4 linked regions of the Homo sapiens genome follow. The protein of the gene in region 1 interacts with the protein of each later gene in a biochemical or structural test. Each region holds a gene or a part of one and is shown in the gene's direction. Other genes may lie near its edges.

Region 1 (7,277 bases):
CCCCTGCCGCCGGGCTCTACGTGCCGCACCCACACCACAAGCAGGCCGGTCCCGCGGCCCACCAGCTGCATGTGCTGGGCTCCCGCAGCCAGGTGTTCGCCAGCGACAGCCCCCCGCAGAGCCTGCTCACTCCCTCGCGGAACAGCCTCAACGTGGACCTGTATGAATTGGGCAGCACCTCCGTCCAGCAGTGGCCGGCTGCCACCCTGGCCCGCCGGGACTCCCTGCAGAAGCCGGGCCTGGAGGCGCCGCCGCGCGCGCACGTGGCCTTCCGGCCTGACTGCCCAGTGCCCAGCAGGACCAACTCCTTCAACAGCCACCAGCCGCGGCCCGGTCCGCCTGGCAAGGCCGAGCCCTCCCTGCCCGCCCCCAACACCGTGACGGCTGTCACGGCCGCGCACATCTTGCACCCGGTGAAGAGCGTGCGTGTGCTGAGGCCGGAGCCGCAGACGGCTGTGGGGCCCTCGCACCCCGCCTGGGTGCCCGCGCCTGCCCCGGCCCCCGCCCCCGCCCCCGCCCCGGCTGCGGAGGGCTTGGACGCCAAGGAGGAGCATGCCCTGGCGCTGGGCGGCGCAGGCGCCTTCCCGCTGGACGTGGAGTACGGAGGCCCAGACCGGAGGTGCCCGCCTCCGCCCTACCCGAAGCACCTGCTGCTGCGCAGCAAGTCGGAGCAGTACGACCTGGACAGCCTGTGCGCAGGCATGGAGCAGAGCCTCCGTGCGGGCCCCAACGAGCCCGAGGGCGGCGACAAGAGCCGCAAAAGCGCCAAGGGGGACAAAGGCGGAAAGGATAAAAAGCAGATTCAGACCTCTCCCGTTCCCGTCCGCAAAAACAGCAGAGACGAAGAGAAGAGAGAGTCACGCATCAAGAGCTACTCGCCATACGCCTTTAAGTTCTTCATGGAGCAGCACGTGGAGAATGTCATCAAAACCTACCAGCAGAAGGTTAACCGGAGGCTGCAGCTGGAGCAAGAAATGGCCAAAGTAATTTCACACTTCATTTTTACTATTTGTTCCCGGCTCATCCCTCTACTGGCAATAGGAAGCACGCACAATCCCTTTTCTGTTTCGACTGTATACCCCTTATCATCAAAACGGCTAATGGGCGACAGTCTGGTTCTGGGGCCAACAACTTGGAGAAGTTGCAAATGGTGTGACCTCCCTTTCGCCTTTCCCCTTGACTCTTCTGAAGAATCAGAGATAGCTGTGCATAATGTAGCCAGCGTAATGTAGGTAATCTACAATTTACATTGTAGGTAAATTAGCAAATTAAGTTTTAGGGTATGTCCTCGCTTAACAAAATTCATCATGGATTAATAATAGAACATTTGAATGAGTAGAAACAAAGTTTAAGGTTTTGTAAATTGAGATTGTGGGATTTTGGAAGAAAAATGTATCTAGTAGTGATTCCATTTATTCTTTTAAGTGTTTAGTTAGTAACTAATGATTTAAATATACCTTAGTTGACACTGAAGTGCTGAAGAAGGTAATTATTGATGAAACTATTTAAATTAAAATGTAACAGATTTAAATCACACAAAGCCAATAATTCCAAAGCCTGAAAACCAGATTTGTGTTCTTTTCAGTGTCCCGTATTCACTGATTTTTTTACAGATATACTTTTCATTTGTGTTTTTTTTATTTTTATTTTTTATTTTTTAATTTATTTTTAGACGGAGTCTTGCTCTGTCACCCAGGCTGGAGCGCAATGGCGCGATCTTGGCTCGCTGCAACCTCTGCCTCCTGGGTTCAAGCGATTCTCCTGCCTCAGCTTCCCGAGTAGTTGGGGTTACAGGTGCCTACCACCACGCCTGGCCATTTTTTTGTGTTTTTAGTAGAGACGGGGGTTTCGCCATGTTGGTCAGACTGGTCTCGAACTCTTGACCTCAGGTGATCTGCCCACCTCGGCCTCCCCAAGTGCTGGAATTACACGTGTGAGCCACCACACCCAGCCGTTTATTTTTTATTTATACATAGTATTTGTAGATTTGTGGGGAACATGTGATATTTTGTTACATGCATAGGATATGTAATGATCAAGTCAAGGTATTTAGAGTATCCATTGCCTGGTGTATTTATCATTTCTGTGTTGGAAGCATTTCAAGACCTCTCTTCTAGCTATTTTGAAATATTGAATACATTTTTACTAACCATAGTCATACTAGTTAGAGTTTGTTCCTTCTATCCAGCTGTATGTTTGCACCAATTAACTTCTCATCTCCCCTCAACACACACACACCCTTTCCCACCTCTGGTAACTATCATTCTACTCTCTACCTCTATGAGATCAATTATTTTAGCTCCCACATATCAGTAACAGTGTGTGGTGTTCTAACCGAACTTCTGTTCCTGGCTTATTTCACTTAACATAATGACCTCCAGTTCCATTCATGTTGCTCCAAATGACAGGATTTCATTCTTTTTTATGGCTGAATAGTATCCCATGGTGTACACAGACCACATTTTCTTTATCTGTTCATCAGTTGATGGACACTTCAGTTGATTCCATGTTTTTACTGTTGTGAATAGTGCTGCAATAAACATGGGGTGCAGGTATCCCTTTGATATACTGATTTCCTTTCCTTTAGATAAATACCCAATAATGGGTTTGGTAGATTGTATGGTAGTTCTATTTTTAGTTTCTTTTTTTTCCTTTTTGATAATAGTCGTTCTAACTGGGGAGAGATTATATCTCATTGTGGTTTTCATTTGCATTTCCCTGATGGTTAATGAGCATCTTTCCATGCACCTCTTAGCCATTTGTGTATCTTCTTTTGACAAGTGTCTATTCAGGTCATTAGCTCACTTTTTTTTCTTTTTGAGACAGAGTTTCGCTCTTGTTGCCCAGGCTGGAGTGCAATGGCACGATCTCAGCTCACCACAACCTCCGCCTCCCGGGTTCAAGTGATTCTCCTGCCTCAGCCTACCGAGCAGCTGGGATTACAGGCATGCACCACCACGCCCAGCTAGTTTTATGTTTTTGTAGAGACAGGGTTTCACCATGTTGTTCAGGCTGGTCTCAAACTTCCGACCTCAGATGATCCACCTGTCTCAGCCTCCCAGGGTGCTGGGATTACAGGTGTGAGCCACCGCGCCTGGCCTTATTTTATTTATTTATTTTTTAATTAAGACGGAGTCTTGCTCTATTGCCCAGGCTGGAGTGCAGTGGTGAAATCTCGGCTCACTGCAACCTCTGCCTTCTGGATTCAAGCTATTCTCCTGCCTCAGCCTCCTGAGAGCTGGGACTACAGGTGTGCGACACCATGCTCAGCTAATTTTTGTATGTTTAGTAGAGACGGGGTTTCACCATGTTAGTCAGGCTGGTCTCAAACTCCTGACCTCAAGTAATCCGCCTGCCTCAGCCTCCCAAAGTGCTGGGATTACAGGCGTGAGCCACCATATCTGGCCTTTTGGCTTACTTTTTAATGGGATTATTTGATATTTTTTTTGCTGTTGAGTTGAGTTCCTTGTATATTCTGAATAATAGTCTTTTGTCAGATGAATAGTTTGTGAATATTTTCTCCTGTTCAACACAGGTATCCTCTTTACTCTGTTGTTTCCTTTGCTCTGCAGAAGCTTTTTAGCTTAATATAGTCCCATTTGTCTACTTTGGGGTTTTTTTGCCTGTGCTTTTGAGATTTTAGCCATAAAAATCTTTGCTCAAACCAATGTCCTGGAGTATATTTTCATAGCCTCTGGTCTTATTTCTAGGTCTTTAATCTGTTTTAAGTTGACATTCCTATATGGTGAGAGATTGGGGTCTAGTTTCATTCTTCTGCATATGGATATCTAGTTTTCCCAGCATGTCTCTTTTTCAGTGTACATTCTTGGCACCGTTGTCAAAAATCAGGTGGCTGTAAATACGTGGACTTATTTCTGGGTTCTCTATTCTGTTCCATTGGTCTATGTGTCTGTTTTTATACCAATACCATGCAGTTTCAGTTACTCTAGGCTTGTAACATATTTTGAAGTCAGGTAACAATTTTGTTCTTTTTGCCTAGGATTGCTTTGAGTATTTGGGCTCCCTGTGAATTTTAGTATTGTTTTTTCTAGTAATGTGAAAAATATCATTGGTATTTTGATAGGGATTGCATTTAATTGGTAGATTGATTTGGGTAGTATGGTCATTTTAACAATATTAAATCTTTCTGTCGGTGAACATGGGATCTCTTTTCATTTGTTTGTGTCCTCTTTAGTTTCTTTCTTCAGTGTTTTGTAGTTTTCTTTGTAGAGCTCTTTCACTTTTTGGTTAAATTTACTCCTAGATTTTTTTTATAGCTGTTGTAAATGGCATTCATTATTGGTGTACAGAAATCCAGATATCCATATGCAGAAGAATGAAACTAGACCCTATCTCTCACCATATACAAGTCTATCTAATGTATGCTACTGATTTTTGTATGCTGATTGTTGACTTTTCTTCCTGCTTTCCCATTTTCCCTGAGTTACTGAAAGATTAGATGGCTCTTGGAGTTCTAGGAATGCTGTGGTCCCCTTTTCCACAGATTTGTGTTAATAGAAGTTTCCCTTAGTTTTTAGAGCCAAAAGTATCCTAGAGAAAGAACTTTCTTTTTTATCTTAACTTTTCATTCCATATTCATGTCTATATATGGATATAAAAAAACAAAACTGGCCGGGCACAGTGGCTCAAGCCTGTAATCCCTGCACTTTGGGAGGCCAAGGTGGGCAGATCACCTGAGGTCAGGAGTTCAAGACCAGCCTGGCCAACATGATGAAACGCTGTTTCTACTAAAAATACAAAAATTAGCCAGGTGTCATGGTGGCGGGCACATGTAGTCCCAGCTACTCGGGAGGCTGAGACAGCAGAATCGCTGGAACCCAGGAGGCGGAGGCTGCAGTGAGCTGAGATTGTGCCACTGCACTCCAGCCTAGGCGACAGAGCGAGACTCTGTAGTATATGAGACCCATTCTTCTCTGTTCTCCTTTCTGTAAAATGAGCTAGGTTCCTCTCAGTTCCAGGGCATCCCCATCCCAGTCATTTGTTATCATGGGACTTCTCTAATGTGATTCTTCCTCCTTCCTTTTCCTTCTACACAGGCTGGACTCTGTGAAGCTGAGCAGGAGCAGATGCGGAAGATCCTCTACCAGAAAGAGTCTAATTACAACAGGTTAAAGAGGGCCAAGATGGACAAGTCTATGTTTGTCAAGATCAAAACCCTGGGGATCGGTGCCTTTGGAGAAGTGTGCCTTGCTTGTAAGGTGGACACTCACGCCCTGTACGCCATGAAGACCCTAAGGAAAAAGGATGTCCTGAACCGGAATCAGGTGGCCCACGTCAAGGCCGAGAGGGACATCCTGGCCGAGGCAGACAATGAGTGGGTGGTCAAACTCTACTACTCCTTCCAAGACAAAGACAGCCTGTACTTTGTGATGGACTACATCCCTGGTGGGGACATGATGAGCCTGCTGATCCGGATGGAGGTCTTCCCTGAGCACCTGGCCCGGTTCTACATCGCAGAGCTGACTTTGGCCATTGAGAGTGTCCACAAGATGGGCTTCATCCACCGAGACATCAAGCCTGATAACATTTTGATAGATCTGGATGGTCACATTAAACTCACAGATTTCGGCCTCTGCACTGGGTTCAGGTGGACTCACAATTCCAAATATTACCAGAAAGGTATTGTCTGAAGTGTGCCACATGCACTTTCTATGTGTAGATGTCACTAACCCCATTGCAAGCAACTAAATTTCCCATCCTAGTGGCTCCTAATCATTTTGAAATTTTTATCTGTCACTCCATTATTTTATAAATTGGTGTGACATCCTTCCCTTCCAAAAGGAATAGTGTGATATGCATTTTTTTTTAAGGTAGTGGATTTCAGGTTTACTTTTTTTTTTTTTTTTTTTTGAGACAGAGTTTCGCTCTTGTTGCCCAGGCTGGAGTGCAATGGCGTGATCTCGGCTCACTGCAACCTCTGCCTCCTGGGTTCAAGTGATTCTCCTGCCTCCAGCCTCCCGAGTAGCCGGGATTACAGTCACGCACCACCACCTCTGGCTAATTTTGTATTTTTAGTAGAGACGGGGTTTCTCCGTGTTGGTCAGGCTGGTCTCAAACTCCCAACCTCAGGTGATCCGCCTGCCTCCGCCTCCCAAAGTGCTGGGATTACAGGTGTGAGCCACCGTGCCTGGCCTACTATATTTTTAAGACAGTAGGCTACAAGGTGTCACGGGGCCTTTGTGGGGAACCATCACCTGCCTCATTAAAGCAAGCCTTAAAAAATAAAAGATTTGGCTGGGCATGGTGGCTCACGCCTGTAATCCTAGCACTTTGAAAGCCCAAGGTGGGCGGATCACCTGGGGTCAGGAGTTCGAGACCAGCCTGACCAACGTGGAGAAACCCCGTCTCTACTAAAAATAACAAAATTAGCCGGGCGTGGTGATGCATGCCAGTAATCCCAGCTACTGGGAGGCTGAGGCATGAGAATCGCTTGAACCCGGGAAGCAGAGGTTGCGGTGAGCTGAGATCGCGCCATTGCGCCCCAGCCTGGGCAACAAGAGCGAAACTCTGTCTCAAATAAAATAAAATAAATAAAAGAGTCACAGCCTCCCAAGGAGCCCTCTCTTATAGCCAACCTGCATCTATGTAGTGTATCATTGAACTCCATTTCCTATAGTTCTGCCATTTGGAAAAGCCAAAAACAGCTGATTATTATCTTCTTTATGGCTGAGATTCTTGAAGTAGTTATTTTAATATCATCACTTAGTCTTTTTTCTCTAACTCAAAACTAACTCTAAATCATTTAATTCATTCTCATTTTCTGGCATTGAAGTAACCTTTGTTCATGTTGTTTAAATCCTCCTAAGTTTTCCATGCTCATCTTAAAACATGTGTCAGGCAGTTGTTACCTTTTGATTATGGCCTAAGCGCTAGGAGTGCTGTCCCCGCAGTTCTTCCAGCCTCTCCTGCCTGCAGTGCCTTCCTGCCAGCTCAGCACGGTGCATGGTGTCCTGTGATTCTTCACCGTCATTTCTACCTTGGTGCTAGCGCCAACCTCACCACGTGTGTCTCCAAACTAGGAACAGCAGGCTGCCCCTATGGAGCAGCTCAGCGGGGATTCTCTGTCCTGATATGTCAGGAGCTGATTGGAATGACTTTGCTGTTTTAAGCTGTGGATCTGTTGAGTTATTGAAGAGTGAAAATTCACTTTATATTTTGTTCTTTTCTTTCACTATCCCTGATTCCTGGGTGAAGGGAGCCATGTCAGACAGGACAGCATGGAGCCCAGCGACCTCTGGGATGATGTGTCTAACTGT
Region 2 (7,311 bases), on another chromosome or scaffold:
CAAAGCTCTGAGGAAGCAGCCCAGGTTGTACCTTTTGCTTCCCTGTGACTACTTGTCTTGCTCTGCAGTGGAAACCGAACATGACCAGTGCAGGTTAATACCGCCACCTGGTGGGCAGTTTCAGTCATGAGCTTGAGTCTTCTGACCAAGGGAACACAAGTTCTATCACTATTGGGGAATTGGGTTCCTGATATAATAGCTATTGTTTATTGAATTACATGAGGAAAATTTTACTATTCCTATCTTACAGATGAGGAAATTAAGGCTTAAAGAGTTCCCGTGTCTCACCGGCAGCCTCTCTCTCACTATGTGACCAAGCAAAATACACAGCTTTGTAGCTGTTTCTTGGTCCTGTCAGCCAAGCTGTATTTTGAGGAAGGGGTGTGCATTTTGGATGGATTGAAAAGCAAAAATGGCTTTACATTTATTCAGTCTTATAACAAACATTGATCGCTTTACTAGGTGTCAGGTACTGTGCTATGGATACATTGTTGATAAGGTTGGATGCTGTTCAGAGATTTTTTTAGTTTAGTCAGGAAGCCAGGCAGTGGAGTAGGCAATGAAATGAACTGTGATAAGGGTGACCATGGTGGAGTGTAGTGCACTATGGCAATATACAGCAGGGGTAGCTAACCTACTCTTGCAGTCTGGAAAGGCTTCTTCTGAGAGGGTGTAATGTCTAAACTGGGGAAGAGTTAACCAGAAGGAAAGGGGAGGCTAAGAGAGTGTTCCAAACAGGGAACTGCAGGTACAAAAGTCCAGGGGCAAGAGAGAGTACAGACAAGGTCCAGTTCTACTGCAGACTTTTGGGGAAGGGATAATGCTAGAGGAGAGGCTGGAGAGTGAGACAGACCTCATAATACAGAGTACAGACTTCAACCCAAGGGCAGTGAGAAATCATTGAAAGTTTGTTTTAGCAGGGAAATAAAACGACAGGTTTTGCCTACAGGCAGTCCCCAACTCAACGATGGTTCGACTTAGGATTTTTCAACTTTACGATGGTGCGAAATGATTCAGTATGCTCCTCACCTTATGATGCAGTTATATCAGATAAACCCATTTTAAGCTGAAAATATGGTGAAGTTGAAGAAGCACTTCTGCCTTACGATATTTTCAATTTATAATGGATGGGTTTATTCAGACATAACTCCATTGTAAGTCGTAAAGCTTCTGTACTGAAAAAAATCACTTGACCTCAGGGTATAAGATGGATTGCAGGGAGCAAGCCTTGGCCAGGAGACTTTTGCATTGGTTTCGGAGAGGAAAGACGGTGACTTGACATATATAGTGGTGATGAGGGGAGGACAGATTTGGAAGATGTTTAGGAAGCAGAATTAATAGAACTTGGTGATTGATAGGACTTGGTTGGATTTGAGGTTAAGGGAGAAGGAGGACATAGGGTTGACGCTCAGATTTCTAGTTTAAGCAGCTAACAGGATTGTGCCATTTACTCAGAGAATGTTAGAGGAGCCAGTTTCATGAGGCAGAGAAGATGAGATCAGTTTAGGATATTGGGTGCTTCTGAGACAGCCATTGGAGATGCTAGTAGTTAGTTGAGTTTTTAATTCCAAGAAAGACTGGGCTGGAAATATGGATTAGGGAGTCACCTGCATATACAGATTATAATTAAAGTCTTGGGAACGAAGAGGGCCTTTGGAGATCCCAGCTCCAGTTTAGACTGTGGAGAGGCCACCTGAGGTCATGAGCACTATTGGAGCATGCCCTATTAGCATATGCGTCTTCTACTTCTTCCCCTTCACTCATCTCTGCTTCCAGTTATCCCTTGAAAACACAGGCTGTTCATCCCAGTTGTGCCCATTGCTACCACCAACTCTTGCATGGGCCTCCTTTAATGGCCTCCCAACATTTCATAAGATTTCCTCTCGCATCCTCACCCCAAAGGATCAAAGCTTCCAAATATTAGTAGTTGTGTGGATATTTTGGATGTAATTGGAAGGAAGAATCAAAGTTCTCCTTCCTCATCTGGACACAGGAAAGGAGGGAACACATTATGGTTAATTCTGAAGATGTTGCTCACAGCAGGTTCTAGATGCAATCCGATAGCTCCCCTCTGTTCCTAGTGCTTTCAGTCCTCCCTGCTTCCACTCTGGTAGGAAACTCTCCTCAGGATCAGAGAAAAGCCGTGGCCTTGACCAGGGAAACAGAGGCTGATTCTCAGGGGAGATGAGGTCAGGGAGACAATGCAACTAGGACGAAGAAGCCAAATAGTTTGGCACAAATTAATTTCCCAAAAGATATTAACCTCGTTTCTTTCCACATTCCCTAAGGCTACACTAAGATTATAAAAGGTGTTCAAAATGTTGAGATGAAAATAATATGCATGACTTGTTTGCATATAATTTTCATACTCATTTACTATCTAAATACAAAGGAGTCATTTTCCTTCTCCATTCTACTTCCTCCACCCCTTGCCCCTGATGTTTTAGTCTGGGCAAAAGTAGTTGGCTGGTTTTTAAAAAATTTTTTTGAGACGGAATCTCCCTCTATCGCCCAGGCCTGAGTGCAATGGCACAATCTCGGCTCTCTGCAACCTCCGCCTCCTGGGTTCACGCGATTCTTCTGCCTCAGCCTCCCAAGTAGCTGGGACTACAGGTGCACGCCACCACACCGGCTAATTTTTGTATTCTTAGTAGAGACGGGGTTTCACCATACTGGCCAGGCTGGTTGCAAACTCCTGACCTCGTGATCCCGCCGCCTCTGCCTTCCAAAGTGCTGGGATTACAGGCGTGAGCCACCGCTCCCGGCCGTTGGCTGGTATTTAATTAGGTATGTTTAGCTTCATCTAGGGTTTCTTTAAAAAAAATTATTATTTATTTTTGAGAATTTTTTTGAGACGGAGTCTTGCTCTGTCGCCCAGGCTGGAGTGCAGTGGCCGTGATATTGGCTCACTGCAACCTCTGTCTCCCGGGTTCAAGCGATTCTCCCGCCTCAGCCTCTCGAGTGGCTGGGACTATAGGCGTGCGCCACCACGCCTGGCTAATTTTTGTATTTTTAGTAGAGATAGGGCTTCACCATGTTGGCCAGGCTGGTCTGAACTCTTGACTTCAAGTGATCCGCCCGCCTCAGCCTCCCAAAGTGGTGGGATTACAGGCGTGAGCCACCGCGCCCGGCTGCTTCAGCCAGGGTTTCTTTTCCTTATTCTTGATCCTTTTAAAATAGTCAATATCAGCCTCTTTTCCATCCTGATCATTTTCATTTGCAATTTCCTCTACACGGCATTTCTTTTCTTCCTCTTAATACTTACTCTGTATCACCAGTCTTCTGTGGACCAAAACCAAAGGGAGAAGGTGTTCGCTAGCCCTAAAACCAGGCCTTCGATCTCCACAGTCACCTGAAATGAGAAAAATCTCATTTCCCAACACCAGGGGGTGTCTATCCCTCTAACTGTCCTACCCTTAAGGTAGAGATTAGTCCCAAACCTTTTCCTCACTCCTTTTCACTGCTTCTACATACACACTATATCTCTTTCCCTCCCTCTCAAAGTAGAGATTAGTCCCATTTTCCTGACTCCTTTTCACTGCTTTTACAAATCACAAAACTTTTGGGTCCAGAAGGTGGTGCCTTTTTATTGCAGTTTATCTGTTTGTCTCTCATTCTCTCTGGACAAGCTTGTCCTTTCCTTTGTCTGCGCACCCTTCGGTCTCTGCATCGTCCACACTCCTCTTTGCTCCTCAGCTCTCCCTTTCTTTCGCTACCTCTTCCCTCTTCCACCTCTCTCTGTGGGCTTCGTCGCCTTTCAGGGCTATCTTTACGTACACGTCTCTGAACCTCTTTATGCATTTGTCTTCTTTCTCTCTGTCTTCCTCTTTATGGCTCTCTCCTTGTCTCACCATTTCTGTACCAGTCTCTCTCCATCTCTCCCACAGTCCCCACGCTGGGAACAAAGTCACGGTGCTAGCGCAGAACATGCCTCCTGTCGTCCGGTCCCGGGACGCGACACATTCCACCATGCCCCTCCGCGCATTCCAACTGCAGACAAAGAGTCCCCGTCCCCTACCCCCACACTCTTTCCTATTCCAATTCTTCAGTGTTGTAGGGGCAGCTGCCCCAACTGCCCCTGCCCGCCTCTCACGTCCAGTCCGCGGGTCTCCACATCCAGGGCAGTTAGCGCCTTCCGCTGCACGCACACCAGCTATCCCTGCGCGGACACCCCCGGCGCTCTCGCACACACCGCGCTCCGCCCCCCTAGGAAAGTAGATCCGGCCAGGCAGACAAAAGTTTGGGAGAGAAGTTCGGTCTGTGGCTAGCGTGAGAGCTAGGGGGGCGGGGGCCGGGGAGAGTGGGGCAGTCGGGCGAGTCGACGCGTGAACAGATAGACCTGCGGACTGGACAGCCGCGGCCAGAGACCCTGCTAGCCCCGCTCAGCCCCAGATGCGCGGGGGGACGCAGCCCCTCCCGCTGGGGGATGCTGTGGGATTCCTGGCGCAGGGCATCCAGGCCGCCCGCTAAGCCCCTGTGCCTCCCCTGTGCCCCTGGGGAACCAGAGTCCGGCTGCAGGGAAAGAGAACCGGCCGCCGAGACGCCGCAGGGTGCCAGGCGGGGAGGGGGCGAGAGGCCCCAGGCCCGAGGGCATGGAGCGGTTAGGAGAGAAAGCCAGTCGCCTGCTGGAGAAGTTCGGCCGCAGAAAGGGTGAATCTAGCCGGTCTGGGTCTGACGGGACCCCCGGGCCGGGCAAGGGGCGCCTAAGTGGGTTGGGGGGACCTAGGAAGTCAGGGCCCCGAGGAGCTACTGGGGGACCTGGGGATGAGCCGTTGGAGCCGGCCCGGGAGCAAGGTTCCCTGGACGCTGAGCGAAATCAGCGCGGCTCCTTTGAGGCGCCGCGCTACGAAGGCTCTTTTCCCGCGGGGCCGCCGCCCACCCGGGCCTTGCCTCTACCTCAGTCGTTGCCCCCCGATTTTCGGCTGGAGCCCACGGCCCCGGCCCTCAGCCCCCGCTCTAGCTTCGCCAGTAGCTCGGCCAGCGACGCGAGCAAGCCGTCCAGCCCCCGGGGCAGCCTGCTGCTGGACGGGGCGGGGGCTGGCGGAGCTGGAGGTAGCCGGCCCTGCAGCAATCGCACCAGCGGCATCAGCATGGGCTACGACCAGCGCCACGGGAGCCCCTTGCCAGCGGGGCCGTGCCTGTTTGGCCCACCCCTGGCCGGAGCACCGGCAGGCTATTCTCCCGGAGGGGTCCCGTCCGCCTACCCGGAGCTCCACGCCGCCCTGGACCGATTGTACGCTCAGCGGCCCGCGGGGTTCGGCTGCCAGGAAAGCCGCCACTCGTATCCCCCGGCCCTGGGCAGCCCTGGAGCTCTAGCCGGGGCCGGAGTGGGAGCGGCGGGGCCCTTGGAGAGACGGGGGGCGCAACCCGGACGACACTCTGTGACCGGCTACGGGGACTGCGCCGTGGGCGCCCGGTACCAGGACGAGCTAACAGCTTTGCTTCGCCTGACGGTGGGCACCGGTGGGCGAGAAGCCGGAGCCCGCGGAGAACCCTCGGGGATTGAGCCGTCGGGTCTGGAGGAGCCACCAGGTCCTTTCGTTCCGGAGGCCGCCCGGGCCCGGATGCGGGAGCCAGAGGCCAGGGAGGACTACTTCGGTGAGTGAGAGAAGTGGTTAGGGACGGGAAGGGACCCGTCACGGTATTCGGTTCTCCACTGCCCCGACGGCCCAAAGTGCCGGTGCCCCGGGGTCCGAGGTGAAGACGCGGGACTAGGAAAGAAGCAAGAGGGATGGATGGGGGCGGCCCCAGAGCACTGTCCCCTTCCTGCTAGTTTTCAGATGAACCAGGGCTCCTTATTTCTGCTAAATTCAACCCCCCTGGTATCTCGTGAGTCCGTTTCTCAAGCATTTGAACCTCGGTTTTTTGCGGCAGGAGGCCTCGTAGGGAAGGGACCAAGTGGGGCAGTGAAGGCGCATCCCCCCCAACTTGCTCCCCCCTTTCACGGCGGTGCCCCTGGAGGTTTGTGCGCGCCGCGCCCCCACCCGGGCCCAGGCTCCGCCCGCAGGAATTCGGAGAATGCGCGGGTGGGGGGGCGGGGCAGGCTGGCCGCGTGCGTGCCGACTCCTGCCCGGGCGCTCCAGGTGCCCGCGGGCGGGGCGGCTGCCGCCGCGCGGCGGAGGGGTGGGGTTCGGGGATCGGGGGACGCTCCCTAGCATACGCGGAGTAGTGGCGGCTGTCGGGGAAATGGAGCCTGGGAGACAGGATGGAGCGCCCTGGGACCCAACTGCTGTCCCTCCCCAGTCCTGTTGGCTAGGTGCGTGCGTGGGCATTTAATCAGAGACCCAGTAGTACCAGCTTCTATTTTCCCCATCCTCCGGAAGTCAGGGTAAAAGTCATGACTACTGGGACACCATTACCTCTGGATGGATAACGACCCTGTGTTATTGCCAGAAATAACTTGGCCTTGAATTCTGCTTATAACCTCTCAGAATTCAGGCCAGAAGTAGCGCCTTACTTCCTGACACTGTTAAGGAAACCTGGTCGCTGTCTCCCTCCCCTACTCTGTTCAGGAAGTATTGATTGATTATATGTCTCAGCTATGAGGAACATTAGGGTCTTGAAAGATCTTTTAGTCAAAATTCACAGGCACTGCTACACACATAAAAAACTTCGAATCTGATTGTGATTGGAAAGAAGTGGCAGGCTTACCGCCTAAGGGCTGTGGGCCTCTTTCACTTTTCTAAGCATCTCTTCTTACCACTCATGCCCCACTCCTGGACCCCATGCTGTAGAACTCTATGGCTAGAAAAGTGAATAGGAAGAGGAACGCGGCCAGGGAGGGATGGTTGGGTAGGAGGTTCAGAGGTAGCAGGGCGGCAGGCTATAAGGGCATAACTCAACCCCCAGCCTCCACCCCCATTCTTTTCCCCACCTCCAAATCCACCGAGAGGAAAGCCCAGAGGAGATGATGCCAAACCGCTTTGATCAAGGAAGACTGAATGACAGGGCCCATTTAGCAGTTTCATTTTGAGGCCCAGGAGAGGTGGCTAGTAAAGAAGTCTTTTTGGCTGAACCATCAGAGCCAAAAGGAAGAAAGGAACTCAGAGAAACTGCAATAAAATGGCAGGAAGAACATAGGTATAGATATGCTGGGTTAGAGGAGGTGAGGCCAACGTGCCTGAGCAGTTTCGTTTGCTTTTCCCATAACGTCCAAGGTTTCCTAAAGAATGGCTCCGACAGGACCCCCTGGCATGGCAATCTTGGGGCAGATCTTCACTTCCATGAGGAAGCCACATTTTGAATTCAGAGATGGGGGCCCCTTCTCCTTGGGAGTCAGGTTGCCTCCTTTGACAGAACCCCTACATACCC
Region 3 (7,655 bases), on another chromosome or scaffold:
AAAGACTTTTACACAAATAATTATACCAGTTTCATAATCTCCAGAAAGTAGAAACAACCTAAATGTCCAACTGGTGAATGAATAAATTGTCCTGCATTCATACAGTGGAATAGACTCAGCAACAAAAAGGGAACAAATTACTGGTACATGCAACACATTGATGAATATCAAAGCATTATGCTGAGTGAAAGAAAAGACATTCTGGAAAAGGCAAAAGTATAGGGAAGAAAATCAGAAAAGTCGTTGCCAAGGCCTGGGAGTAGGGGCAGCCCAGAGAATTTTCCACTGTGATGGAAATATACGTTTGATTGTGGTTACAGCACACTATATATTTGTCAAATACACATAACGATACAACTAAAAAGGGTCCATTTTACTGTATGTAAATTATACCTAAAATACTTGACTTTAGAAAGAAAAAAGCCCCTCAGTTCTCTTCTCCCCACCCTCCTACGCGCACTCCTGATCTGGATCTCTAATTCTATGGTAAAATGCAAATCTTTTAATGGCTATAGGTAGCCCTTTGCTATTTTTGAATAGAAAAATGATGTAATTATTTGGTAGTTTTAAGGAAATTAATAAGCCAGAGAACTTTAATACAGAAGTGAGGGAGGAAGAAGAAACTGGCCTGAAGAGAAGCTGGAGGTGGTGCGATGTAACTGGGTCCTCAACTGGAGCGTTCTTTGAAGGGATGATTCATTCATCCCTTCAAGCCATGTATGGGGCACCTGCACTGCTAGGCACTGGGCATGCAACGATGCCATCTAGTGAGGCTGTGGGGATAAGCCAGTAGAGGAGACAGGAATGAACAGTGACTGCCAATTGGAATGTGAGTGCTGAAACAAGTCAACAGGTGCAGTGAGTGGGAAAGGGCAGTTTTGGGGGCGTGGGGGCTGTACCACGGGGCCCAGTATCCACAGCAGGGTAGCTGGCAGATCTGCAGAGAACTGAAGGCAAGGCATTGTCAGAGGAAAGGAGGGAGGAGAGCGTGACAGCACAGAGAATGGCGTGTGAGCCCAGCGTGTTCAGGGCACTGCAGTTCAACATGACTAGAGGGGACAGGGGGCAGTGATGGGTGATGAGCCCCAGAGGAAGCGTCTCAGGGCCCTGTGGTGGGTCTCCAACAATGGGGAACCACTGCAGAGTTTCATATAGGTATGTGACATAATCAGATCCATGATTTAGAGATGAGCAAAATGGAAACTGAATTGGAAAGTGGCAGCAGAGAGGCCTGTTAGGAGACTGCTGTCTTTATCAGACAAGAGAAGATGGTGGCTGAGGAGACAGAGAAAAGTGGAGCAGTTTGGAGGTTTGGCTACTTAGTAGGTAGAACTGTTAAGATTTAGTGATTGAATATTGAGACAGAAGAAGAGAGAAAAGCTAACAATGTTGCTTTAGACTCTGGCTTGGTGGATGCCATCCACTGAGAGGGAGCAAGTTTGGGAGAAGAGATTAGAATGTGTTAGATGTGAGATGCTTGTGGGATATCGAAGTGGAGAATCCAGAAGACAGCTGGATATATGGCTCTGGAGCTCAGAAGAGCAAACATGAATGGGATGTGAAGCCATATGAGTGCTTGAGAGTGCCTAGGGAAAAGGCACACCTAGTGACCAGCTCTAAACCCTGAGCCCCAACATTTAAGGGAGAAAAAAAGAACTCACAAAGGAGACTGAGAAAGAAGGGCTAGACAGCTAGGAGAAAAAATAAAGGCATGGGAAGAAAGGAATGGGCAACATTTTTTAGTGTTGTTAAGAAGCCAAGTAAGACAAAAGTCAAATAGATTTAGCATCAAGGAAGTGGTAATTTTGGTGACAAGAGTTCCAATGGAGTCTGAGGTAGAAGCTAAACTGAAGAGCAACTAGGATATAAGTAGTCAGCAACCAAGCCCAATTCCTAAATGATAAAAATTCCAAACTCTAGGCCAGGTGCGGTGGCTCACACTTGTAATCCTAGCACTTTGGGAGGCTGAGGCAGGTGGATCACTTGAGGTCAGAAGTTCAAGACCAGCCTGGCTGAGGCAGGAGAATTGCTTGAACCCCGGAGGCGGAAGCTGCAGTGAGCCGAGATTGCGCCACTGCACTCCAGCCTGCGTGACAGACTCCGTCTCAAAAAACAAAACAAAACAAACAAACCAACAAAATACCAAACTCTAGCTTGACAACAAAGTCCTAATCATTCAAAGACTTCAACATAGGAAGCAAAGCAATAAAAGCACTAGGAAACAAAAAATGAGAAATAAAATAAAAAACTCAGAATGGATGTATTTTTCCAGTATGACACAAAACAGAAGCCATAAAAGAAAAGACGGATTAATCTGTCTACCTGAAATTTTTTCCAAGCTGTCACAAAACATATACAAATAAAAATAACCAAAATGTGAAAAATAAAAGTATTTAAACTCGTATTTTGGATGAGGACCAATTTTTTTTTAATATAAGAACTTTCACAGATCATTAAGAAAAACGAACAACCAATAGAACAAAGAGGCAAAGAATATGAACACAGTTGATAGAGAAGGAATCAAAAGGGCTCTAAAATATATGAATAGACAACATTTATCTGAAAATAAATGAAAAATTTAACTACATGTTTTTTCTCACCAATTGATATGAGATATCAATAGATTGGTAGCTACTGAAAAGTTTGATAACACTTTGAGAATTGTGGAGAAATAGGCACTCTCATACAGGCTGGTGGGAGTGTACATTTGGACAGCTTTTATGGAGAATGATTTGCAATATCTGTGAAATGTTACACATATGTATACTCTTTGACTCAGCAATTCTGTTTCTAGAAATGTTTCCTACATATTTACCTGCATTGTATAAATTTCCACATTCATTCACTATAGCTGTATCTGTAATAGGAAAAGTTGGAACCATCCTAATGTGCAATGTAGGGGTGGAAAAGGTGTGATACTTTTCTTTACCCATCTTAAGGGTCACAGCTGACACTACCATAACAAAAAACAGGTTAGCAAGATAAATGGATAACTTATTGAATCACAGTTTTATGGGATGTAAGTGCCTTCAGAAATGAAGACCCAAAGACCCAGGGAAAGCTGTCCATTTTTATGCTTAGATGAGATGAAGAATGGACAGCTGTGTAGAAATGTGATTGTACAAAAGGAGTATGATCTAATAGTAACAGACTGAAGGAGGAATCCAGCAAGTCCTGTCTGTTCAGATTCTTCTTGGCCTCTCTGTGCAGCTTTCCTTCTTCCTGAGTGTAGGGCAAGACCCTTTTGGAACGAGGGTCTTATGACAAGGTACATCAAAGAATGTCTTTATGGCCAGCTCTTACACAAAAAGGTGGGGGAAGGCTAGATTAATATTTCTAGGTTTTTCTAGAATAATGTTTCTGGCTTGCTTGGGAGAAAAGGGGTTCTAGTTTCCATGACCCGCCTTGGGGAACAGAAATTCTGGTTTCTATTATTTGCTTTAGGAGACACAGAGGGGTGGGAGACAAGAGGGCAGGAGAAAGTCAGAGACAGACTTTGCTTTTAAGGCTTCTCTGAGGCACTTTCAGTCTTCTTTAGTTCAAAGCACTCAGTGTGCCAAAGAGCCATACTCTGGGGTGTCGTTTCCTGAGCACCAACAATATTGGCCAAGGACATTGTGACTATCCTTACCAGTGCTGTGGTCCTTTAGGAAGTTGAGAAGGGGCTAGAGTTCCATGAGAGCCCAGGTGTAGATGTGTATTTGGTAGTCATCGGCTTAGGGTCAAAGACAGAAGTGATATAGAATCAGTTCATCTAAGGCAAGAGTAGGTTCAAAAGGTTGCCCCTTAAGGGTAAGGACCAAATTTTATTCATCTCCGTAAGGCCAGGATCAAACACAATCAAGATTTGATAAAACAGGCCGGGCGCAGTGGCTCACGCCTGTAATCCCAGCACTTTGGGAGGCCAAGGTAGGCAGATCACCTTAAGTCAGGAGTTCTAGACCACCCTGGCCAATATGGTGAAACCTCATCTCTACTAAAAATACAAAAATTAGCTGGGCGTGGTGGTGCGCGCCTGTAATCCCAGCTACTCGGGAGGCTGAGGCAAGAGAATTGCTTGAACCTAGGAGGTGGAGGTTGCAGTGAGCTGAAGACTGCAGTCCAGGCTGGGCGACAGAGCAACTCCACCTCAAAAAATAAAAAAGGAAAAAAAAAAGATTTGATAAAATAATGTACATATAGGACAGAGCTGGAGGGAAACCCAGGAAAGGTGAATCAGAGAGAGAAAAGACGCCAAGATAATGTGGTGACTTGGGAGCCAGAGAGACGGAGCCTGAGACTTGGAGCAGGGCACAGCACAGGAATACAACACTTTTCACCAGAACGACATTCCGACCTCTGAATCAACCCTGGAAAGGCCCTTCCATTGAACTTCTTGTGATGGAGGAAAAGAAACCCTCAGTTTCGTCATCGCAAGGCGGAAGAGTTTAAATACCATACCTCAAGATCTCCCTCCAGCCCTGACACGCGACTCCGCGGCCCTTTCAGCGTCGGTCGCCTAGGAGACAAGCGCCACTTCCGGCAGCGAAGTCACTTCCGCGGAGGTCCTGCCTCTCCCTGCGGACGGGCGCTGATTGGCCCGTTTGAAATGCGCCAGGCGGGAGCTCACCTGGGCTCTTAGCGTCGCCGCCGGCTTCGCAGAGCACCGCGCCTTAGCCGCGAAGTTCTAGTTCTTGCTGCCGGTCCTAACGTCCCGCAGTCTTCGCCAGCCAGCCGTCCCGCATGCGCGTTTGGGCGGCGTGGAGCCTGCTGCCATGAAGTCAGCGTGAGTACGAGGCCGCCGAGCAGGGAGAGAGGGCGGACGGGGGCCGAGGCCTCGGGGCTGGGGGCAGGCGTCTCCACTCAGGCCGCGGCCGTACGCGGGCAGCGCGGACAGCATCCCGCCCGGTGCTGCTGCGGCCGCGACCCCAAAGTGGGAACCTCCACGTGTGGCCGCTCCGCGGGAGCCTGGGCGCGGAGACCCCTGCCGCGTCGCCCCCCGCCGCCCCGCCTGGGCCTCCAAGGGGCCAGGAAGGGTCGGCCCGGAGCCGGGGTTGTTTTACGCCGCACCCGGTTCCCGGGGGCGGGGCAGTCCTCCTCGGGGTCCCGGGACAGCCTTTCCCTTCTCCCTCGCTGGCTGCCGCCGCCTCCAGAGTGCAGTTGGCCAACTTAGTGCGGGTCGGAGGTGGTCTCGTGTGTGGAGCAGAGCGAGTGTGCTGGGCATTGGTTAGATGGGCTCCGTTTCTGGAGAGCCCTGGCACCGGTGATCGCCGCTAGCTTTTTTTTCAGCCGAGCACCCTGTCCTTGAGGCCGAGCCCATCCGCTTACACAGGCCAGTTACTTCTGCTGTATTTTGTGGCCGCAGAGAACCTCCGCCCACATTCCTAAGCTAATATTTTCGGCGCAGCATCATTCCTGGGTAAAGAAATATTTGTCGTGCAAAGGAGAGGATTGGCTTTATTACCATTTAGGGAGTCGTTTGCAAAAGACAACTTGTTTATTAAGAGGCCGAAGTCAAAATCTTTAGATGAAAAAAATTATATATAAGAAATATACGTTGAGTTTAACTTAAGCCCACCACAAAGTATTTTGCACTGAATAACACGAATTTGCTTGTGTTTCATCTGAGAATATGTTTGGAAAAATATTTTTAAACTACAGTCGAAGCCAATAATCTTACTTAATTTTAATGTGTTAAATGTATATCTAGCCTATAGATAAATGTGAAGGGAAAAAGATGAGATGCTAGAGAAATGGTGAAATCAATCAAAATAACTTTTTGATTGCCCCTACTTAAGAAACCAAGAAATTGGCAGTTTGGGACCAGATTTTGTTTGGAGACAAAGAGTAATGTTTTGAGCATTCAATGACTGGTTGTTCCTTGAAAGTACAGGCGTAACCCTTGACGAAAGAATGGTTTCCTCCATGTGCATTTTTATAGTGTATTGAAGTTAATCGCTTGTCAGTCTGTAAAGTGTGGGCAGTTATAATTTGTAGTGCCTCTGTTAAATTGTTGCTCAAGAAAATATGCAAGCCATTTTAAGTATAGAACTAATCAGAGAATAAGTAGGTAGCTTTGGTACCAAAAATGTATTCTAAAGCAAATTTTAATTACTTTTGGATTACGCATGCCACAAACACTCTGCTACTATGATTATTAATGTTATTTGGGATGCAGTGTTTTGCAACTGCTAAGGGATAATTTACAGATAACCTAGAAAGATTGTATAAGTTTTAGGTGAGGCTTTTGTATTCGTGTTGAACTGAAAAAAAAGTTATTATTATTTTTTAATCTATGACCAGGAGAGCTAAGACACCCCGGAAACCTACCGTGAAAAAAGGGTCCCAAACGAACCTTAAAGACCCAGTTGGGGTAAGGTATCCCTGTAAATTTATGTGTGGTGTTTAAGAAACTTATCTCTTCAGTCCTTTCTGTCTTATGTGTATGCTTGGAAGGGAAAGAAGAAGACATGTGGAAGTATAATCAAAGAACATTTAGTTAAATGGATGTACTACATTGTGTAAAACTAGTGCTAGCTGTGAAATTTTCTCTATAAGATTAATTAAATTAGTCCAGTAAAATGAAGTCTTTGGTTGTCAACTGCATACCTTCTGTAATTATAATTTGGAGAGTTAGATAATTAAAAATCTCCAACTGGGTTCATATTCATCCCAGAGAATATGAACTGAGTTCATGCCATACAGTAACTGATGGCATGAGGAGAGTTCCAAACTTCTTGGGACCAAGTTTAATTCAGTTAAATTATGAAGAAAAAATGAAGCAGGCAAAAAGAATAAGAATTTTAAAACAAAACAACAAATGGCAAACAAAAAGGGTTCTTTGCTCTGAGGTATTTTAAATCTATCCCTCGTTGCCACTGGAGTGGGTCCCTGGCTCTGAGTTAAGGGAACCGGGTGCTTTGCACACAGCTGAATGAGTTTTCCTCAAGCCCCCTCCCCTGCTTTCAAAAATGTCTCTGTAGGCTGGGTGCGGTGGCTCACATCTGTAATCCCAGCACTTTGGGAGGCTGAGGCGGGTGGATCACCTGAGGTCAGGAGTTCGAGACCAGCCTGGCCAACATGGCGAAACCCTGTCTCTACTAAAATTACAAAAATTAGCTGGGTGTGGTGGTGGGTGCCTGTAATCCCAGCTACTCGGGAGGCTGAGGCAGGAGAATTGCTTGAACCCAGGAGGTTGCAGTGAGCTGAGATCATGCCATTGCACTCCAGCCTGGGTGACAAGAGAGAAACTCTGTCTCTAAATAAATAAATAAATAAAAATGTCTTTGTATATTAAATGTTGGGTTAAGCTGACAAGTTTTTAAATTGACATCCATTTCCAAGAAATTCTAACAGTTTTAAAAATCTCGTGTGACATGTTGTTGACTTTTAGAGATATTAGTAGTAGTATAACTATTATTTGTGTACAATATAATAGTGAATACACTGCAATTTGATTTTTATTAAAATTTATTTTAATTTTGTGTGTATTTAAAGTATTCTCATATCTAATACATACTTGTATTTGTCAATCTCAAGTAGCAGATTTTAATTTTCTTAGCCCTTGGAGATACAGAGCTCTTAAATTGAGAGACTGAATGTTTGTTGAATGAATGAATGAATGAGAAGCTTAAGTGAAAAATCAGGCAAAAGGTCGAACTTTCTTCTTAAAGCAC
Region 4 (7,444 bases), on another chromosome or scaffold:
GGGACAGTGAAGATGGCTCCCACAGCTGAGGGGCACTGGGTGCCAAGAGCCTGCCAGACCCTGGGCCACCCAGAAACATGCTCTGATAGTGCAGCTGTGAGCACTGGCCTGCGTCCCCTCTACCCAGCCGACCTATGAGGCTCAGGGTGCTTGGGGGCCCATCAAGGACATAGTCCTAGCTGCCGACTCATCCAGGCAGCCTGCACAACCCCTGGCTCCCCTCCACCGGCCACCTGCCCCCCTGCACAGGCAGGATCCGGCCTCGCCCACCCACAGGCCTGCACCTCCGGGCCCACGGCAGCAAGATTCCTATCTTGGGGATGCTTTCCTCCCTTTGCCGAGAGACCCACCCCCCCACACCTTGCCTCTCTTCAAGGAGCCGAAAATGCAGCTGCCGACTGATTTGCTGTGGAGCTAAAAATAACTGCCGGGCTCCAGCCAGGGCCCAGGAAAATATCCCATTGCTAGGAGACAACCGTTGCCGGGAGACCGCCATTGCTAGGCGACGCGTGTTGCTATGGTGATGGCTGGGCCCTGAGTCATCCTTAGCCTTGATAGGGGGCGAGCCAGGCAGGGAGCAGAGCTGGGGGGCATCAGAGAAATCCCACCGCCCATGGCACTCAGGGCACCCCTAATGGCTGTGAGGTTCTCATGCCTATGGGTGCCCATTCTGGCTGTGGAGGGGTCGGGACGGCCAAACATACCCACAGCCTGCTGCTTCACATGGATGATCCTGGGTGCTCTCGGGCTGTGCTCCAGGCAGGGGGCAGGGGCAGTGTGTGGGGGGATGGTGGCGTGGCCATCTGGCCCCCGGAGCAATCACTTTGCTCTCCAGTGTGGGGATATCACCACAGGTGCAGAGCTGAAGTGAATGTGGGTCCCCTTGCAGTCCTCCAAAGTCTCAGGGCAAGATGTACCAGCAGCCTCTGGTCCTCATCCCCATGGCTCCAGAGTGCCCTCCCAGCCACCTAGATGGGAGACTCCTCAGTGCTGAGGCATCAAGGCAAGGGGTGGTCCCGGTGAAGTATGCTCCTGGTAGGGGTTCTGCAGGAGAGGGGCTCTCCAGGTGAGGGGTGCTCCAGGTGAGGGGTGCTCCAGGTGAGGGGGTGCTCCAGATGAGGGTGCTCCGGGTAACAGGGTGCTCCAGGTAACAGGGTGCTCCAGGTGACGGTTCTCCAGGTGAGAAGGTGCTCCAGATGAGGGTTTTCCAGGTGAGGGTGCCCCGGGTAACAGGGTGCTCCAGGTGAGGGTTCTCTAGGTGAGAGGATGCTCCAACTGAGGGTGCTTCAGGTGAGGGGTGCTCCAGGAAAGGAGTGCTCTGGATGAGGGTTCTCCAGGTGAGGGGTGCTCCAGGTGCCCTCCGGAGCCAAGGCACATACCGCCTCCCATATCAGTCTCCAGGACCAATGGAGGGGTGCGGGCCTGAGCGGTATCCACATCCCCCAGAGGAGATCGAAGTCTGCTGAGCAGCCCCCTTTGTCCAAGCCACTTCCCTCTGGGGTGTGAGCTGTTCTCCAAAGGTATCCTCTACAAGGGCCTCCCGCCACAGGAGGCGATCCAAACTGCTGGTGCCAGTCACCTTTCATGCTGCTGACGCATCGCTGTCTCCCTCATTCGCCAAATTTGCCATGCACCTGTGACGTACTGAGATGGAGGCTCAGTGCCCAGGGACAGGGTGGTGGGGAAGAAGACCGCACCCTGGCCCTCAGCAGGCACAGTCAGCCAATAGCTCATCAAATGCACCATCAGACACCAGGCAGACACAGGCTGAGAAAAGAAGGTCCTTGGTGCTGGGGAGGTGAGGACACGGGTCTGTGGCCCTGTCCTCCTGAGGGAGGGCACCTAGGGGAGAATACATTAGCCAAGGTCTGAAAGGCAAGTAGTCACCCAGGTACAGGTGGCAAGGGAGTGCTCCAGGCAAGGGGCCAGGAGAGGAGTGCTCCAGGCGAGAGGTGCTCTAAGGGAGGGGTGCTCCACATGAGGAAATGCTCCAGGAAGGGGTGCTCCAGGGGAGGGGTGCTGCAGGGGAGCTCCAGGTGAAGGGAGGGGTGCTCCAGGTGAGGGGTGCCCCAGGTGAAGGGTGCTCCAGGTGAAGGGAGGGGCACACCAGGTTAGGGATGGGGCACTCTCCTGGCCCCAGAAGAAGGCCAGTGTGGCTGAAGCTTCATCCTCAAGGGGCCAGGTATAGAGCGAGGCTGTGGGCCAGCCGTGCCAGGCACTCAGGGCTGTGCAGTCTTCAGCAAAGAATGAACAGGGCCCTGGGAAGAACAGGACCATGTCTGCACGGCAAAATGGCCCCGCTGCACCCTGGGGAGAAAAGGAGATGGGAGAGGGGTGGAGAGACCAATGGGGAAGTAGCTGCCACCAGCCATGGTGGAGACAGACAAAGTTGCCCGGCACAGGTGGGGTCACAGAGGTGGAGGGTAGGTGGGTCACAGCTGGTGACAGAGGTGGAGGGTAGGTGGGTCACAGCTGGTGACAGAGGTGGAGGGTAGGTGGGTCACAGCTGGTGACAGAGGTGGAGGGTAGGTGGGTCACAGCTGGTGACAGAGGTGGAGGGTAGGTGGGTCACAGCTGGTGACAGAGGTGGAGGGTAGGTGGGTCACAGCTGGTGACAGAGGTGGGGGGTAGGTGGGTCACAGCTGGTCACAGAGGTGGAGGGCAGGTGGGTCACCGCTTTGGAGGAGCACGGTTGGCCTTTCTGTGATGATCTTCCACACACTCTTCCCTGCTCAGATTCCCCACAGGCAGGGCTAGCTTCTTGGGCCTCGCCAGGGTTGCATGACCCAAATGCCTGACTCCCACGCTCACCCTATGCACTTGGGGTGTGTCCAGCCCACCCTATGCACTTGGGGTGTGTCCAGCCTGCCCTGTGCGCTTGGGGTGTGTCCGGCTCCAGCCCCAGCTGGGACTCAACACAAGCACAGCTTGTTCTCTGCCTGAGGCCCTGGCACCTGCTGTGGTGAGAGCCCCAGGCACGAGGTGAAACCCTCCTACCGGGAGCAGTCCACGCCTGGGGTGGAAGCTGCTGCCAGAGGGCCAGCCTGCCAGACCATGCACCGGAGACACCCAGATAGGTTGGACCGCCGCTCCCCTGTTGCCCCAACTGTCTTCACGGGGCTCGTCCTGTCTGCCCCACTCCGGGCACCTTCTTTGGTCAGTATCCAGGTACCGGGCAAGACTTACGCAGAAGAGCTGCTGCGCTCACCCCAGGTAGACCCAGTGGCGCCCCCACAGCAAGCACAGAACCACCCCACCCCGGGACCCAGCCAGGGTGCCGTCAGTCTGACCCTCCTTCCCGCTGACCCCAGGCCTCACACCGGCCCCTTCGGCCAGGCTTCCCATCAGGACGCTGGGAACAGCAGCTGGTTTCACTCCTATTGAGATACTCTCAGGAGCCCCATTCAGCCCTGTAGCTCTTTCCCGGTGCAAAGAACCCCTCTGCTCTCCCCACACCTGCTCCCTCCCCCGGCCCTGCTCCCAGGAGACCCCAGGATAGGGCGCCATTGGCCTCCATTCTCCTGCCCTGAGCCTGCTGGGGCGTCTGGGGTCTCCAGCGGTCCCCACCGAGTCCTCCACCTAACCTAGCACGCCCCACCCCTGCCCCGGGCTGCAGCAGCCGCCGCCGCCTCCAGCCTCCAGTTTATTCCCGAGGGAACTTGCCAGGCTCCTCGGATCTTTGCACCCCCATTCCCGAGCCATCCCTCCCTCGCGCCGTGGGGGGGTCTCAGCTCCAGTGGGGCACCCTCAGGAAGCCCCCGCCAGAAGTCACCACCGCAAGCCCTCGGGTGCTTTCACTGTCACTGTCTGAACTGATCCGTGCAGTCACTTGTTTTCGCGCTCTGCGGGTGTGCCAGGGTCTCCAATGAGGGGCTTCCGGCCGGGCACGCAGCAGGTGCGCGGGGGGTGTGAGGGCTGTGAAGGGTCCTTGCCGTGGGCTGGGCGGGAGGGTCCAGAGACGGGGGTCTGACCACCCTGTCTCCTCTGGGCCGGGTCTCGCCTTCCTCGCCTCCCCAAGTGGTGGCCAAGGGCCGGGACGCGCGGTGCCGCCCCGGTCCCCATAGGACCCCGGACCCCTGGGCCACCCGCCGGCGCCTGCTCTCCCGCCTCCCCTCGCCCTCCCTTCTGCCTCCCGCGCCCTCCCCGCCCGCCGCGCGCCGGGGTTTGTTATTGTGCGGGTGCCCGCGGCGAGCGGGGCGGGGGCGCGTGCCGGGCCTGGCGCGTGCTCGTGGACGCCGTGCCGGGAGCGCGCCGCGCGCGGGGGCCGGGGCGGGGCGGGGGCGGGGCTCGGCATTCTCGGCGCCCCCGCCCGGGCTCGCGAACCCGGATTGGCTCGCCACGCCGGGAGCGCGCGAGGGCGCGGCGTTTGGTGCCGGGCGGGGGGCGCGCGCGGCGCCGGCGGCGGCCACGGAGGAGCGCGGGGAGGGCGAGGGGAGGAGGAGGCGCCCGCCTGGTTCCCTGCAAAGCGGCCTTATTTATCTGGGCACAGCCTCAGCCTCCCCGGTGGGAGGCTTGGGGCGGCCGATCCTCTCCCACCGGGGAGCTCCTTTCCGTGCGCTGCCGAGGGGGCCCGGCCAGGACGGGACGCGGGGCGCAGGGCGCGGCCGGGCCCTGCCGGCCAGTCCAGCACCCCGGCGGCCCCCGCGCGCCGACGCCCATGCCGGGCTCCCCATGACGGGAGGTCGCCCGGCGGACAGCGTGGCATGAGCCAGGAGCCCGGGCCGAGGTAAGGTGCGCGTGCGGCCGGGCTGCGGGGCCGGGAGGGGGCCAGGCCGCACCTCCGCGGCGGCCACAATGAGGAGGGGGCGGGGTGGGGGTGGGGGCCGCGCCGCCGCCGCCCGGGAAGGGCTTACGTAACGGCAGCCCCTTCCCCACCTCCCCCGCGGCCGCTGGGCCTCGGTCCCTGCCTGGCCTTCCCGCAGCCCCGCGCCCCGGCCCCTGGCCCGGAAGAGGGCCGCTCCCCACTGGCCACTCGGCCGGGGCTGGGGGTCCGTGCCTCCTGGGACGCCGAAAGGAGGAATTGTAGGCCCCCGGCCTCCACCCCGGGCGCCTGGTCGGCTCAGAGGGCGCCCCCGGACCGAAGTGACAGGCCAGAGACCGTTAAACTGCATGGGGGTCGCGTGGATGTGCGGCCTGAGGGGCGGCCCTCCCCGGGCGGGCGGCTTCTGGACCCGGGGCCTGCGCTGAGCTACTGCCCGCGGGAGGAGGAGGGTGGGGGGAGGCTGGCACCTTCCTGGTTCTGGAGGCGGGACCGGGCCTTGGCCAAGGTTGGAGGGCCTCAGAAGGGAAACGGCACCTTCAGACCTGCTCGGGAGGGGTCCGGTGTCCTCCTGGGGATTAGGTGGGTGGAGAGCGTTCCCCACCCATCACCTCAGGAGAGAGGGCTGCGGTGGCAGCTTCAGGAACTGACGGCCCAGCGGCCACTCCAGGCCCTTCCCAGGCTCCAGGCTCTGTTCGGGCAGCCTGCCCTCCGCAGGAGGAGCAGATGGCGGAGGCCACCTCACCTGCCTCTTCCTTCAGGCCCTTCCCCCACACCCGTGCATCCGAGGGCCCAATGGCCAGGGGCAGCTCAGGCCTCCCTGGACACAGGGCCGTCTCCCAGCCCACCCCCTCTGTGGGGTGCTGGACAGCAGCCTTGGAGCAGATAGGCCTGGGTCAGGCCAGGAGACTGAAGGGTTTTCTGTCTCCCGGACCAGGGCAGAGGCCTAGTGGAACCTGGCTGGTCTGGCCAGAGGTGGACACAGGGCTGGACCTGGAGCCGCCTGGAGGGGAGGGAAATTCAAGGCCCAGCTGCAAACATCGCTGTGTGGGGGAACCCTAGGACTCACTTGCCCCACTCCCTGCCCCCTGCCACCCCAACTGCCCCTCATCTGGGGCCAGACCCTTGAGTTCAGCCCCTCCATCGACAGACTCACTGCCTCCAGCTCACACCCACTTCCGGGGCGGCTGGACGAGTCCTACCTCCCACTGATGAGAAGGACACAAACAGCTTCCTGTGTGGGAGGCACGGGGCCCTTGAACCAGCTGGACATGGACCCAGGAAGCCTTGTGTTGCTGAGAGTTAGGGATCTCCCACCCAGGTGGCACTGTTCAGCCACCCGAAGACCCCATCTCCTTGCATGTGGGCACCCACTGCTGTGCCTCCCATGACTGGATTGGCAGTGAAGGGAGCTCTGTGGGTGAGCAGGTGACTGAGCCTTCCCCACCAGTGGTGCAGGAGGAGTCAACGGCCAAACTGGCTGCAATGTGTGGGTTCAGGCCTCATTCCTTCACTGGGCAGGAAAGAGGGGTGATGGTTAGTGGCAGCTGCCTGGAGCAGTAGGCACTAGGGGCCCAGGCCTCGCCTCTGAGGGTGCTCATGCTCTTCCGAGCAGGGGCTGAGATGAGGCCTGGATCCCAGCACCCACTCCCCAGGGTGTCCAGCTTTCAAGGCTGAGCTGCCCTGGGCTTGACCATGGGCCCTCAGTCTGCTGGGGCAGCAACACGGGTTTCTCTTGAGGCCACGTGCCTGCTGCGCCATGGTGCCCCTCCTCAGAGCCCCTGGTGCACCCCCAGAAGCATCTCAAACTGGGGGCGGGAGAGGAGCTCTGCCGCTGTGCCACGTGCCAAGTGGCAGGGACGCGGGTGTGCCTGCGTCACGGGGCTGCCACGGAATGTGTCAGTCTGCACCCTGTCCCCAATCCCCAGCCACCCCAGCTGTCAGCCAGGCTCTGGGGCTGCCACTGCAGATGGAGCCCGATGTGCATTTCTCTGGCCACCAGGGCCCTGCCCAGCTCTAAGGCCCTCTGCAGGCAGGGCTCAATGGTCCCTGAGGTTCTATGAGGGCTGAGTGGTTGGTTAGGCTGTGCCCCAGTCTGGTGCTGACAGAGATGGGGGCACCAGAGATGGGGGAAGAGACCTTCAAACTGGGGGCGCTGAGGGGTGAGGAGGTTTCCCAGGCATGTGTCCAAAAGGATGTCCCAGGGGTGGGCACGCGGTGTGCAGCCTCTGCAAGGAATGCAGCGCCGTGGCAGGGACCCTGCAGGATGAGGGCAGTACTTGGAGAGACCACTAGCCCAGGGCCCAGCAGGAAGGCATCGAGACCCCATGAGGCAGAACAGGGCAGAGCGAGGACCCTGTGAGGTACACCTGGCAGGACCCAGGTAGAGGGAATCAGCCAGCCCCGGGGCTTTTGGAGCCAATCCTAGCTCTATGTAACTTCTGGAAAATCCGTCTGCAAGCTCTGCTTCCCCACTCCTAGTTAGGCAGTGTGTGAAGGAAGGACTCTGGCCGGTCAGAGGAGGGGTGCGTGTGGTGCCAGGGAGAGCGGGGCAGGAGGACCCCCTTCCCTCTCTTGGCTCAGGCCAGATGGTGGAGGACGGGCAGCCACTTCCTCAGCCCTGCAGCTCCTGAAGAGAGAGCCAGCTGAAAAGGAGATGGGCCCTCCTCATCCGAAGGCTCTGTG

What was found.
Region 2: of the proteins of LATS2 (region 1) and AJUBA, one has a biochemical effect on the other in vitro, tested with the Homo sapiens proteins (one study listed by BioGRID).
Region 3: of the proteins of LATS2 (region 1) and KIF23, one has a biochemical effect on the other in vitro, tested with the Homo sapiens proteins (one study listed by BioGRID).
Region 4: of the proteins of LATS2 (region 1) and FBXL16, one has a biochemical effect on the other in vitro, tested with the Homo sapiens proteins (one study listed by BioGRID).

Annotation. Positions count from the first base shown.
Region 1 is NC_000013.11:20,981,587-20,988,863, reverse strand, and holds part of LATS2 (serine/threonine-protein kinase LATS2), read left to right. Parts: coding exon 1-983; intron 984-5,057; coding exon 5,058-5,640; intron 5,641-7,215; coding exon 7,216-7,277. UniProt on the Homo sapiens protein: Negative regulator of YAP1 in the Hippo signaling pathway that plays a pivotal role in organ size control and tumor suppression by restricting proliferation and promoting apoptosis.
Region 2 is NC_000014.9:22,979,548-22,986,858, reverse strand, and holds the start of AJUBA (LIM domain-containing protein ajuba), read left to right. Parts: upstream 1-4,307; 5' UTR 4,308-4,592; coding exon 4,593-5,598; intron 5,599-7,311.
Region 3 is NC_000015.10:69,409,712-69,417,366, forward strand, and holds the start of KIF23 (kinesin-like protein KIF23), read left to right. Parts: upstream 1-4,637; 5' UTR 4,638-4,754; coding exon 4,755-4,765; exon of another isoform or gene 4,766-5,398; intron 5,399-6,282; coding exon 6,283-6,352; intron 6,353-7,655.
Region 4 is NC_000016.10:702,794-710,237, reverse strand, and holds the start of FBXL16 (F-box/LRR-repeat protein 16), read left to right. Parts: upstream 1-4,436; 5' UTR 4,437-4,726; exon of another isoform or gene 4,727-4,731; intron 4,732-7,444. UniProt on the Homo sapiens protein: Substrate-recognition component of the SCF (SKP1-CUL1-F-box protein)-type E3 ubiquitin ligase complex.